Linked DNA regions of Homo sapiens: region 1 is linked to region 2. The links come from fine-mapping of genetic effects on gene expression. Tissue or cell type: blood mononuclear cells. Region 2 holds a variant in brackets; the other region holds the start of a gene. All regions are shown on one strand. Distances are between the middles of the regions.

Region 1 (5,862 bases), 27 kb after region 2:
GCTGGAGTGTAGTGGTATGATCTTGGCTCACTGCAACCTCCGCCTCCCAGGTTCAAGTGATTCTCCTGCCTCAGCCTCCCGAGTAGCTGGGACTACAGGCGCGTGCCACCACGCCGGGTTGATTTTTGTAATTTTTTTTTGTGTATATATATATATACACATATATATATACACGTATATATATATACACGTATATATATATATACATATATATATATACGTATATATATGTATGTGTATATATATATATACGTATGTATATATATATATATATATATATATATACGTATATATATATATAAAGAAAATGCTATATGGTTATTTTTCCAGTTTTGTAAAACCGTTTAATCATCTCTCCTCTTTCTCGGCTACCGAGTTGGGATAGAAGGCAGAACCTGAAAATGTACAAGCAAAACTTCTGTGTTCGTCTACCCTTTACTTTTCTGCCAGTACCTTCCAGAGATTTCGCCAAGACGCCCGTTTGTCTTGGGCATTGTTAGAGAGTAACTCTGTCTACTGCTAGTCACATTTCCTTTCCTTTCCTTTCCCTGGGGGCTTAATGGATACCTTTTTGGGGGCAGGAAATACAAACTAAATGTTTATAAATGAAAACATCAACTGAAAGAGCCTTTGTCCTAGATGTGGAGGTTTGGTGTATGAATCCTCAGAAACTACTGAATTCCGCCCCGGTGCTAATTATTCTTAGGGGAGGCACATAAAAACATCATTTATTGTTAGAAATCATGACATGATACAAAGTCAAAATCCACTTGTGTCTTGCTAAAGACTACAGAAAGCCATGCTCAGCAGCTTCTTCTCCAATGCTGGCCAGCAGCGTACCTTTCCAAGTCACAAAGCAGTTCATCCCGCCCTCAAGGAGCCGACAGGGCAGCCCAGAGCCTCCCACTGACAAGTGTGGTCACCCACTCAAGATACTGGGAAAGATCCCTGTTCTAGCATCACATTTTAATCAGATTTGTCAAAATCAGGTTGCTTGGGGCAAAGGCTCTTTCACCGAGGATGCTAGTCCTGGAAGACTTCTCCTTCGGCGAGCCGCCAGCTCAATCTTCTGAACCAGGCTCACATCCCAGGGATGGGTCACAAAACTGATGACGGTGCCTGGCACCTCGCTCCCCACACGGCCCACTCTCCCTGCTCTGTGGATGTAATCTTGCAGCGTTGGGGGGAAATCATAATTGACAACCAGCTCCACACCAGTGCTGTCCAGGCCCCGAGAGGCTATGTCTGTGCAGAGAAGTATGTCTCGGGAGCTCTTCTGGAAGGACTGGAAGATTCCTACCCTCATCAAGGCTGGCATTTGCCCCTGCAACCTTAGGTGTTGGATTTTGTGGTCATCCAGAATATATCCCAGCCAGTTCACAGTGCTGGAGCTATTACAGAACACCAGAACAGTTCCTGAGGGACCAGTCCTTTCTGCTCTGTCACGATGCTTGAGGATGTGCACCAGCTCGGCCACCTTATCTGCTCCCTTCAGTCTCAGAAATGTCTGTTTCACATGAGGCATGATACAGTGGAGCTTGGAGCTGGTGATGGTGGTGACAGCATCTGGGCTGGCGACTTTATTCAGCAACTGGCCTACACCTTCGGGAAATGTGGCTCCTACCAGCACTAACTGAGCTTTGGGATTGAAGGGGTCTTCCAAGTCAGCTGGGCCTTCTGCTATGTGGCTCTTCTCTAAGATGTAGTCCACCAGTTCCAGGAAGCTTTCATCCAGCAGTGTGTCTGCCTCATCCAACACCAAGAAGGAGAGTTGCTCCAGACTGATCAGTCGACTTTTCAGGGCCTTCCACAGAGCCCCTGGAGTGGCCACAAGCACATCTGCTGAAGGCTGTCTGGACAGCTGCAGCCTGATCCTACGCATGCCGTGGCCTCCCTCCAGGTCCCGCACCAGCAGGCCCAAGGAGCGGCCCAAGGGTTGGGCCACAGCCCGCACCTGTTGGGCCAATTCTCGGGAAGGAACAAGGACCAGGCCTCGGGGCGCGGGGATAGGAAGGGAGTCCAGGCTTGGCTGGCCCAAGAGCCGTTGAAGCAGCGGCAGGAGGTAGCTGAGAGTCTTGCCACTGCCGGTTTCTGCGGCGCAAACGACATGGCGGCCGCGAAGTAGTGAGGGGATGGTGCTAGACTGCACGGTTGTGGGCTGAACGACTTCAGGCGCAGCCTCCTGTAGTGCGTGCAGCACACGGGGCTCCAGGCCCAGGTCAGCAAAGCTGCCCTTAGACGAGAGCTTTCGCACCGCTGGCGCCTCCTGTTGCGCGCGCTCGATGGAGAAGTGGTCCCGACGCGCGCGTCGACTCTTCCAGCCTTGAGAGGCTAGCGGCGCGCGCTCCCAACGGCCCAGTGTGAGGCGCGCCGGCTGGTTCAACTCCGGCCGCCGCGCCGAAACCAGCAGCGGTCCGGGTCGAACCAGCACCGGCCTCGGGAGGTTCCGCCGCCTGCTCTGCCGCTGTTCCAACTGCCGCTGTAGAGCCACTGGGATGCGCACCACCGGCAGGGGTTCGTCGGGACTGCGGACCGTGAGGCCCCGTCGCGGCGCCAGGAGCAACCGAGTCACGAGGGAAAAGAGCCGCACCGGCCGCGTTAGAGCCATGTTTCCCTTAGTGCGGGAGAAGCGCACATCAGTGACGTCACGGACGCGCCGCGACCTCGCGTACGGTGGCTGGCGAGGCTCAGTACGGTGTGTGGAGCTGGAGCACCGTGAGGAAGAAGCGAGGTTCTTTTTAAGAGTTCAGCTGCGAGGTCTGTAGCTCCGAATAGGGGATGGCGACATCCAGACCCGGCCAGCCTTGGGGAAGGGCGCGTCGTGGAGGCAGGACTGGAGGCTGGCGATACGAGGCGGCAGTGGGGCCTTGACCCAATGGACCATGAGGGCGGAGGGCTTCTGGCGATTGGTTACCTGGTTCCTGGGATTCTCTTTAGTTGTTCCTCATTGCCCTGAGATAGCTTGTCCCGTGCTGGTATCCGAGGTTGCAGCTGTTTTCCCAGATGTGTTCCCTGCGCAGGGTCTGGTAATCCGTGTTTATTGAGAGTTTGAATGAATGATCAGGCCTAGGGGCCGAGACAGGGGTCTGAAGTCATAGATCTGGGCTCAACCCCTCACCCTCTCTGTCTGTGAGCCCAGAGTGCAAGCTGATGGCTTTCAGCTTCTTCTCTCTCTCAAGTGGGAGATAAGGTCTTCAGGTTTTATTTCAAGTTGGGTCATCTTTTCTTCACAGTTATTTTCCTTCCTTTTAAGCCAAGGTTCACTCTCTACTCCCTCGTCACGCGTCCCAACTTCTCATCCAGAACCCACCCCTCTTGCAGCCCGCTCAGCTCCACTGGCTTCCCCGTCAGAAACCTGAATTACCTAAAATAGTAGTAAGAAGGGTGCTGCGACCCTACAAAGTGATCAAGTACGTGGCTTATCATGTAGCCCTGGTCAGGCAGAATATTTTACCTGAATTCAGATATTCGGGTTGTAAAAACAAGAACTATACGAGTCACTTTTTTTTTTTTTTTTTCTGAGACACAGTCTCGTTCTGTCACCCAGGCTGGAGTGCAGTGGCGCAATCTCGGCTCACTGCAACCTCCACCTCCTGGGTTCAGGTGATTCTCCTGCCTCTGCCTCCCAAGTAGCTGAGACTACAGCCGTACACCACCCACGCCCGGCTAATTTTTTCTGTTTTTAGTAGAGACAGGGTTTCACTATGTAGGCCTGGCTGGTCTCGAACTCCTGGCCTCAAGCGATCTTCCCACCTCGGCCTCCCAAAGTGATGGGATTATAAGCGTGAGCCACCATGCCCAACAGATACTTCTTGAACAGATCTGGAAAATGGGTGTCAGATCTTTTCTGTAATTTGCAGTGCCTGGGGTGGGAGATAAGGTAAATATTTATGGATTAACTCTCTGGGAGGTTCGTAACATCTGGAGAAAACGTTTTAGTTTCATCAAATACCAATGAAAAGATAAAAACTTTGCTTTTTTTGGAATAGTATGAGGAAAAACTTTCACAATTTTAAGTACACTCTACCCTTGTGCTACACAATTAGACTTTCTGGAGAGTTACCAGATAAATCAGAGGAAGAGAGGCTTTTTTTCTCCACAAGAAAATATCTGGAAGTAGGAAGAGAAAGTTTTGAGTAGTGATGGGTGAATGAACAGTCATTGGATAGGGTAGTGGTTCTAAAACAAGGGTGATTTTGCCCTTTCCCTCCCACCATATTTGACAATGGCTGGATACTTTTTTTTTTTTTTTTTTTATAGACAGTCTCACTGTGTTGCCCAGGCTGGAGTACAGTGGTGCGATGTCAGCTCACTGCAGTCTCTGCCTTCTGGGTTCAAGGGATTCTCCTGCATCAGCCATCTGAGTAGCTGGGATTAGAGGTGTGCGCTACCACTCCCAGCTAATTTTTGTATTTTTAATAGAGACAGGGTTTCACTACGTTGGGCAGGCTGGTCTCAAACTCCTGACCTCATGATTTGCCCACCTTGGTCTCCCAAAGTGCTGAGATTACAGGTGTGAGCCGCTGTGCCCGGCCCAATTCTATGCTACTTTTATGATTCTTTCCAAACTCAGGGCTTCTCCTTATCCAAATAGTTCCTTGGGGCCAGGCTCATGCCTGTAATCCCAGCTACTCGGGAGGCTGAGGCAGGATAATCGTTTGAACCCGGGAGGCGGAGGTTGTTGCAGTGAGCCGAGATCGCACCATTGCACTCCAGCCTGGGCGACAGGGCGAGACTCTGTCTCAAAAAAAAAAAAAAAAGGTCCCTTGGATGTTTGTCCCAACAGGTTTCATCCATTTCCATGTGCCACTGTTTTTCAGATATCAAACAAAGAATTACTCTGTACAAAGCCAGAACACATATATCAAAGTAATCCTGAAGTATCAGAACAAAATAATAGGTATGTATATGCATTTGGGTTTTTGGGTTTTGTTCAAATATCCAGGGTAGGGTAGCTGGTTAATATATAGTTGTTTTCTCATTATGCTTGAGTCCTTACAATATGATTACCTCAAAATTTCACAGGAGTTAGAGCTTGCCTAAGCCTGTCTGTGTCCGTGGCCACTAATTTCTTCTTGTCACATCACTAGACACTGCCTACCTTTTTTCCCCCTCACTCACAGAGGACATTGATTAACTTCTAAATGTTTTCTGAGATATTTTTATAAGTAGTGCTTTAGAAATAGGAAAGGTATCCTTATTGTGAAAAAAAATCTAAGCTCCTGAGATCAGGAGCTTGGTGTGTTCCTTGGATCTCAGTTAATAATGGTATATTCATTCATTCATTCAATCATTCATTCAACAAATACTTCCTGAGCACCACGCATGTGCCAGGCATTGGTAGTGAGGAAAACAGCCAAAATCCCTGCCCTTGTGGAGTTTACATTCTGATTTAATTGATTTGGGTTAAGGCCTAGACAAGGTCTTGCTCTGTCACCCAGGCTAGACTTCAGTGGTGCCATCTCGACTCACTGTAACCTCTGCCTCCCAGGTTCAAGTGATTCTTCTGCCTCAGCCACCCCAGTAGGTGGGATTACAGGCACGTGCTACCAAACCCGGCTAATTTCTGTATTTTTAGTAGAGATGAGGTTTTGCCATTTTGACCAGGCTGATCTCGAACTCCTGACCTCAGTTGATCTGCCTGCCTTGGCCTCCCGAAGTGCTGGGATTACAGATGTGAGCCATTGTGCCCAGCCGAGAAATTGGTATTTTTAGAAACCTCTCCAGATGTAACTAGGCTTGAGAATCACAGTTATAAATGAAGCACTTTGGGAATTGCAAAGCATTACAGCAATAAAAAGTGCTATTGGTATTACTTTATTGTTCCTCCATTTTCCCACCTGTAGCAGGGCTGTGCGCAGG
Region 2 (5,862 bases):
CGAGGGGCAGAGCGCGACGATGGAGTCCCGACCCTCGATTCAGGCCACCTGGCGGCGTGGCCTCAAGAGGAGGGTAACGAAGTCACAGGGCCCCGCGAAGGATGTGCGGAGAGCGGCGGCACCGCCCAGTACGGCCACCAGGGGGCGCCCAGCCCTCCCGCCGTCATCCCCAAGGGCGCTCCCGCCGGCTGGGCGGATCCCTGTCCTGGGCGCCCACTCGCGGCCTGTCTTAGGGCCCTCCACCCTCCCTTTTACTCCTCCCACTGTCCCCAGGGGGCCGACCCAGGTGGCTCCTCTGCTGCCCCTAGGCTCTCTCTCTAAGAGAGAGGGCCTGGGGTGCTTCCCCCAAACAGTGGCCCTCTGCCCTGCCCTGGGAGATCTGCAGACCACGTCATGTCCCCAACCGCCTGCAACGTGTCCCGGCCACACCCAGGGCCACATGTGTCCCTGTGACCACAGTGCTCTGGGCTCTGGATTTCCTGGTGCTGGGTTGTGTGGGTGGGTGTGGGGGAGAAGATAGGCTCTGGAAATGAGGGGTTAACCCTGTGGACTGGATTCAGGAAGGGGCCCCCTGGCCCTGACCTTCTCTCTCCCGTAACTTAGGCCCTCAAGCCTATACTCTGGGGAATCTCCCAGCTACTAGGACCTGTCAGGAGCACTCCTCCGCCCCCCGCCCCGACCGCACATTCTCCAATCAGCCTTAGGAAAGAGCTCCTTCCTAAGGAGCTGCCACACCTCCCCAGGACCCCAGTGGAGGGATGAGAGCGCAGCAAGCATCTGGCCACTGCCAGGGAACATTCACTCAACAGAGCAGGAACCCACACAGCCATCTGCATGGAAGGAAATGAAGTCTTGTCTAGGGCAGCAGAGTCCCCGGCCGCAGCACCTTCCTCCTAGAGCTTCTGGCTGATCTGCTGGCCAGGATACCTCCTACCTCCTTGAGGAAGCCCCGGCCTCGTCCAGGTCAGGAGTAAGGGGCCTGAGGAAAGCCCTGCCACCTGGGTTCTGCAGCCACACTCCTCTTATCTTGTGGCTCCTGTGGCTTGAGCTCTCACAGAAACCTCCAGGGCTGAGTCCCTTCCTTGACGACAGGCCCCACCCCATTCCCGGCCTGGGGCCCTCAACCTAGATGCCTCCTCCAGGAAGGACCCCCAACCACACAAGCACACAAGCTCACAATCACACAGGCACAGGGGATGTGCCCGCTCACAGAAGCCCCACGACCTGAGATCTTCCGGGACTGTGGCCAAACCCCTTCGTCCTCAGAGACCTTTGCCTCCTCCTGCCCCTCAGGCTCTCAAGACTCTGCTCTGAACCTTGGCACCCCTGGAACCGCTTCATTTTTTGGAGCCTCCCCCACGTGGCAGGGCTGATCAGTGCATGGGTAGTGTGACCTAAGCCTGACGACGACTAGAGATTCAAGAAGGCCTCCTAAAAAGAAAATGAACCAACTCTTCCAAAGGGACTGGAGGTCCCAAGCTACCCAGGAGGGGAAGTGATCCCAGCTTTGATGTATTTTAGGGACTGCACACTTGATGTTGCCCAGTGTCTGCTGTCCAGGAGGAAGGCAGATCGATGGCCGAGTGCTCGAGGTGGGTTAACTGTCACGTCTACTGCTGCCGAAGGGGGTCTTTTTTTGTTTGTTTTGAGACAGAGTCTCACTTTGTTGCCCAGGCTAGAGGGTAGTGGCACAATCTTGGCTCACTGCAATCTCCACCTCCTGGGTTCAAGCGATTCTTGTGCCTTAACTTCCCGAGTAGCTGGGACTACAGGCATGCGCCACCACGCCCGGCTAAATTTTGTTGTTTAGTAGAGATGGGGTTTTGCCATGTTGCCCAGGCTGGTCTCGAACTCCTGGTCTCAAGCAATCTGCCTGCCTCAGCCTCCCAAAATGCTGGGATTACTGGAGTGAGCTACCGCACCTGGGCTTTTTTTTTATTTTTTATTTATTTTTTTAATTAAAGACTGTCTTGCCTTCTTGCCCAGGCTGGTCTCAAACTTCTGGCTTCAAGTGATGATCTCACCTTGGCCTCCCAAAGTGCTGGGAGTATAGATGTGAGCCACTGTGCCCAGCCCTGCTGGAGGGTTCTATAGGGAGGCCCACTGCAGATGGTGAGTCCTCTTGGGCTCTGCTTCAGAGAACAGTAGGGCGTGTCCCAGATCTGGGTGGTTTGGGTACCCCAACACAGGCTTCCCTCCTTCTCTCCATCATCCACTGCTGGTCAGCAGCTCCCCACACCCACTGGAATAGTGAGAGGGAGGAGAAGCTCTTGGATTTGCTGGTCTCCAGGTCAAAGATGTGGTTTTGGGGATAAACAGTTTATTCTGAGAGCCCCAAGAGGTAAGGGGCATAAAGAATGAGGAACTGAACCTGATCATTATGTGTTATATGTATTGAAACATCACTATGGGTGGGGCGCAGTGACTCACACCCGTGATCCCAGCACTTTGGGAGGCCGAGGTGGGTGGATCATCTGAGGTCAGGAGTTCGAGACCAGCTTGGCCAACATGGGGAAACCCCATCTCTATTAAAAATACAAACATTAGCCGGGCTTGGTGGTGCGCGCCTGTAGTCCCAAATACCTGGGAGGCTGAGTTGGGAGAATCGTTTCAACCCAGGAGGCAGAGGTTGCAGTGAGCCGAGATTGGGCCACTGAACTTCAGCCTGGATGACAGAGCGAGACCCTGTCTCCCCCCGCCAAACAACAACAACAACAACAACAACAACAACAAAAATCACTATGTACCCCATGAATATGTGCAAATTATTATTATTATTGTTTTTGAGATAAGGTCTTGCTCTGTCACCCAGGCTGGACTGCAGTGGTGCAGTCTCAGCTCACTGCAGCCTTAACCTCTCAGGTTCAATCAATCCTCCCACTTCAGCCTCCCGAGTCTGGGACTACAGGTACTCGCCACCACACTCGGCTATTTTTTTTTTTTTTTTTAGAGACAGGGTCTCACTATATTGCCCAGGCTGGTCAATTATTATTTGTCAGTTTGAAAAATGTAAAAATAAGGAAGGGGTAGGTAGGAATAAATAAATAACAGCTGACAGAGTAGGTGAGGAGAATTCAACTTTTTGA[ATTTTTTTTCTT/A]TTTTTTTTGAGACAAAGTTTTGCTCCTGTTGCCCAGGCTGGAGGGCAATGATGTGATCTTGGCGGGCAATGATGTGATCTTGGCTCACTGCAACCTCCACCTCCTGGGTTCAAGTGATTCTCCTGCCTCAGCCTCCCAAGTCACTGGAATTACAGGCATGTGCCACCACACCTGGCTAATTTTGTATTTTTTAGTAGAGATGGGGTTTCTCCATTTTGTTCAGGCTGGTCTTGAACTCCTGACCTCAGGTAATCCACCCACCACGGCCTCCCAAAGCGCTGGGATTATAGGTGTGAGCGACCGCACTCGGCCAACTTTTTGCATTTTTTTTTAAGCTTCTCTCCAGAGCCCGAATGTCTGACCTCCTGGGACTTGGGGTACCTGCTAGCTCAGCAGAGGCAGGCTGAGTTGAGCCAGTAAAAGTGAGCACTGTCTCTGTAGGAGATAAGCCAGACAACACAATTTTCCATGATATGCAACTTCAGTCCTCAAATGTGGCCTTGAGGGGACCATACAAAGCGAATCACAGACACACCCACACTTGTAGTTGCAGTGAGCATTATGATAACACCATAGCATTCCAGCCTGGGTGACAGGGCAAGACCCTGTCTGTAAAAAAATAGATAATGATATTATTATTATTATTATTATTATTATTATTATTATTATTATTATTTTCTGAGACAGAGTTTCATTCTTGTTGCCCAGGCTGGAGTGCAATGGTGCAATCTTGGCTCACTGCAATCTCTGCCTCCTGGGTTCAAGTGATTCTCCTGCCTCAGCCTCCCGAGTAGCTGAGATTACGGGCGCATGCCACCACTCCCGGCTAATTTTTGTATTTTTAGTAGAGATGGGGTTTTGCCATGTTGGCCAGGCTGGTCTCGAACTCCTGACCTCAGGTGATCCGCCTGCCTTGACCTCCCAAAGTGCTGGGATTACAGGCATGAGCCACCCCCGACCCTTGGCCAAATTTTTTATTTTTATATTTATTTGTTTATTTATTTTGAGATGGAATCTCGCTCTGTCGCCCAGGCTGGAGTGCAGTGGCACAATCTCGGCTCACTGCAAGCTCCGCCTCCCGGGTTCAGGCCATTCTCCTGCCGCAGCCTCCCGAGTAGCTGGGACTATAGGTGCCCGCCAACACGCCCGGCTAATTTTTTGTATTTTTAGTAGAGACGGGGTTTCACCGTGTTAGCCAGGATGGTCTTGATCTCCCGACCTCGTGATCCACTCACCTTGGCCTCCCAAAGTGCTAGGATTACAGGCATGAGCCACCGCGCCCAGCTCACATTTTTTAAAATGGAAGAAATAGGTATGGCTTTTCTGTAGGGAATGGGCTGGAGGCCAGGAGATCAGGAGGGGTAAGGAATGAAGGGGCCTGTAAGGGGGAGAAGCAGTGGGAACAGGAAGGAGACATTCCTGGGACATGTTTGGAAGTTGAACCCAGGATTTGGAGATGCTTTGAAGCAGGGTTGGTGGGAGACAGTAAGGAGGAATCAGCGGTGACACTTAAGGTCGGCTCTGGAGTCAGGCCCTGAGTTTCCCCGCCTCTGCCTTGTTTCCACTCTGCCCACTGCCAGCATCTAGCTAACTTAGACTGTAGCCTCTGACCCCAAATTATCCCTGTGCTCAGGTCTGTGCCACTGATATTGGCAGCTCCTAATGAGAGGTGACAGCGTGCTGCCAGTCCTCACAGCCCTCGCTCGCTCTCGGGGCCTCCTCTGCCTGGGCTCCCACTTTGGCGGCACTTGAAGAGCTCTTCAGCCCACCGCTGCACTGTAGGAGCCCCTTTCTGGGCTGGCCAAGGCCAGAGCCAGCTCCCTCAGCTTGCAGGGAGGTGTGGAGGGAGAGGCGCGAGTGGGAACCGGGGCTGCGAGCGGCGCTTGCGGGCCAGCTGGAGTTTCGGGTGGGCGTGGGCTTGGCGGGCCCGCACTCGGAGCGGCCCGCGGGCCCTGCTGGCCCCGGGCAATGAGGGGCTTGGCACCCGGGCCAGTGGCTGCGGAGGATGTACTGGGTCCCCCAGCAGTGCCAGCTCACAGGCGCTGCGCTCGACTTCTCACCGGGCCTTAGCTGCCTTCCCGGGGGGGCAGGGCTCGGGACCTGCAGCCCTCCATGCCTGAGCCTCCCACCCCCTCCATGGGCTCCTGTGCGGCCGGAGCCTCCCCGGTGAGCGCCGCCCCCTGCTCCACAGCGCCCAGTCCCATCGACCACCACAGGGCTGAGGAGTGCGGGCGCATGGCGCAGGACTGGCAGGCAGCTCCACCTGCATCCCTGGTGCGGGATCCACTGGGTGAAGCCAGTTGTGCTCCTGAGTCTGGTGGGGACGTGGACAATCTTTACGTCTAGCTCAGGATTGTAAATACACCAGTCGGCACTCAGTATCTAGCTCAAGGTTTGTAAACACACCAATCAGCACCCTGTGTCTAGCTCAGAGTTTGTGAATGCACCAACTGACACTCTGTATCTAGCTGCTCTGGTGGGGCCTTGGAGAACCTTTGTGTCGACACTCTGTATTTAGCTAATCTGGTGGCGACGTGGAGAACCTTTGTGTCTAGCTCAGGGATTGTAAACGCACCAATCAGCACCCTGTCAAAACAGACCACTCGGCTCTACCAATCAGCAGGATGTGGGTGGGGCCAGATAAGAGAATAAAAGCAGGCTGCCTGAGCCCGCAGTGGCTACCTGTTCTGGTCCCCTTCCACACTGTGGAAGCTTTGTTCTTTTGCTCTTTGCAGTAAATCTTGCTACTGTTCACTCTTTGGGT

The links. PIP is the estimated chance that this variant, and not a neighbour inherited with it, causes the effect.
Region 1: DUS2 starts here. The variant in region 2 is fine-mapped to the expression of DUS2 in blood mononuclear cells (TOPMed, PIP 0.91).

The regions. Positions count from the first base shown.
Region 1 is chr16:68,020,595-68,026,456 of GRCh38, forward strand. It overlaps DUS2 (dihydrouridine synthase 2), which reads left to right and starts at 2,690. Exons shown (of 17, transcript NM_017803.5): 1 at 2,690-2,757; 2 at 4,821-4,900. DDX28 (DEAD-box helicase 28) reads right to left here and starts at 2,638. Exons shown (of 1, transcript NM_018380.4): 1 at 322-2,638. The coding sequence starts at 2,608. The coding sequence ends at 986. RefSeq lists enhancers at 1,339-2,089, 2,090-2,840, 2,551-2,790.
Region 2 is chr16:67,993,272-67,999,133 of GRCh38, forward strand. All of the region lies in intron 1 of DPEP2 (dipeptidase 2), which reads right to left. Among named protein-coding and RNA genes, the nearest start is that of DPEP2, 3.3 kb to the right of the region's middle. RefSeq lists a silencer at 45-304 and an enhancer at 4,636-5,152. The variant ATTTTTTTTCTT/A (reference allele first, on the strand shown) is at 3,087.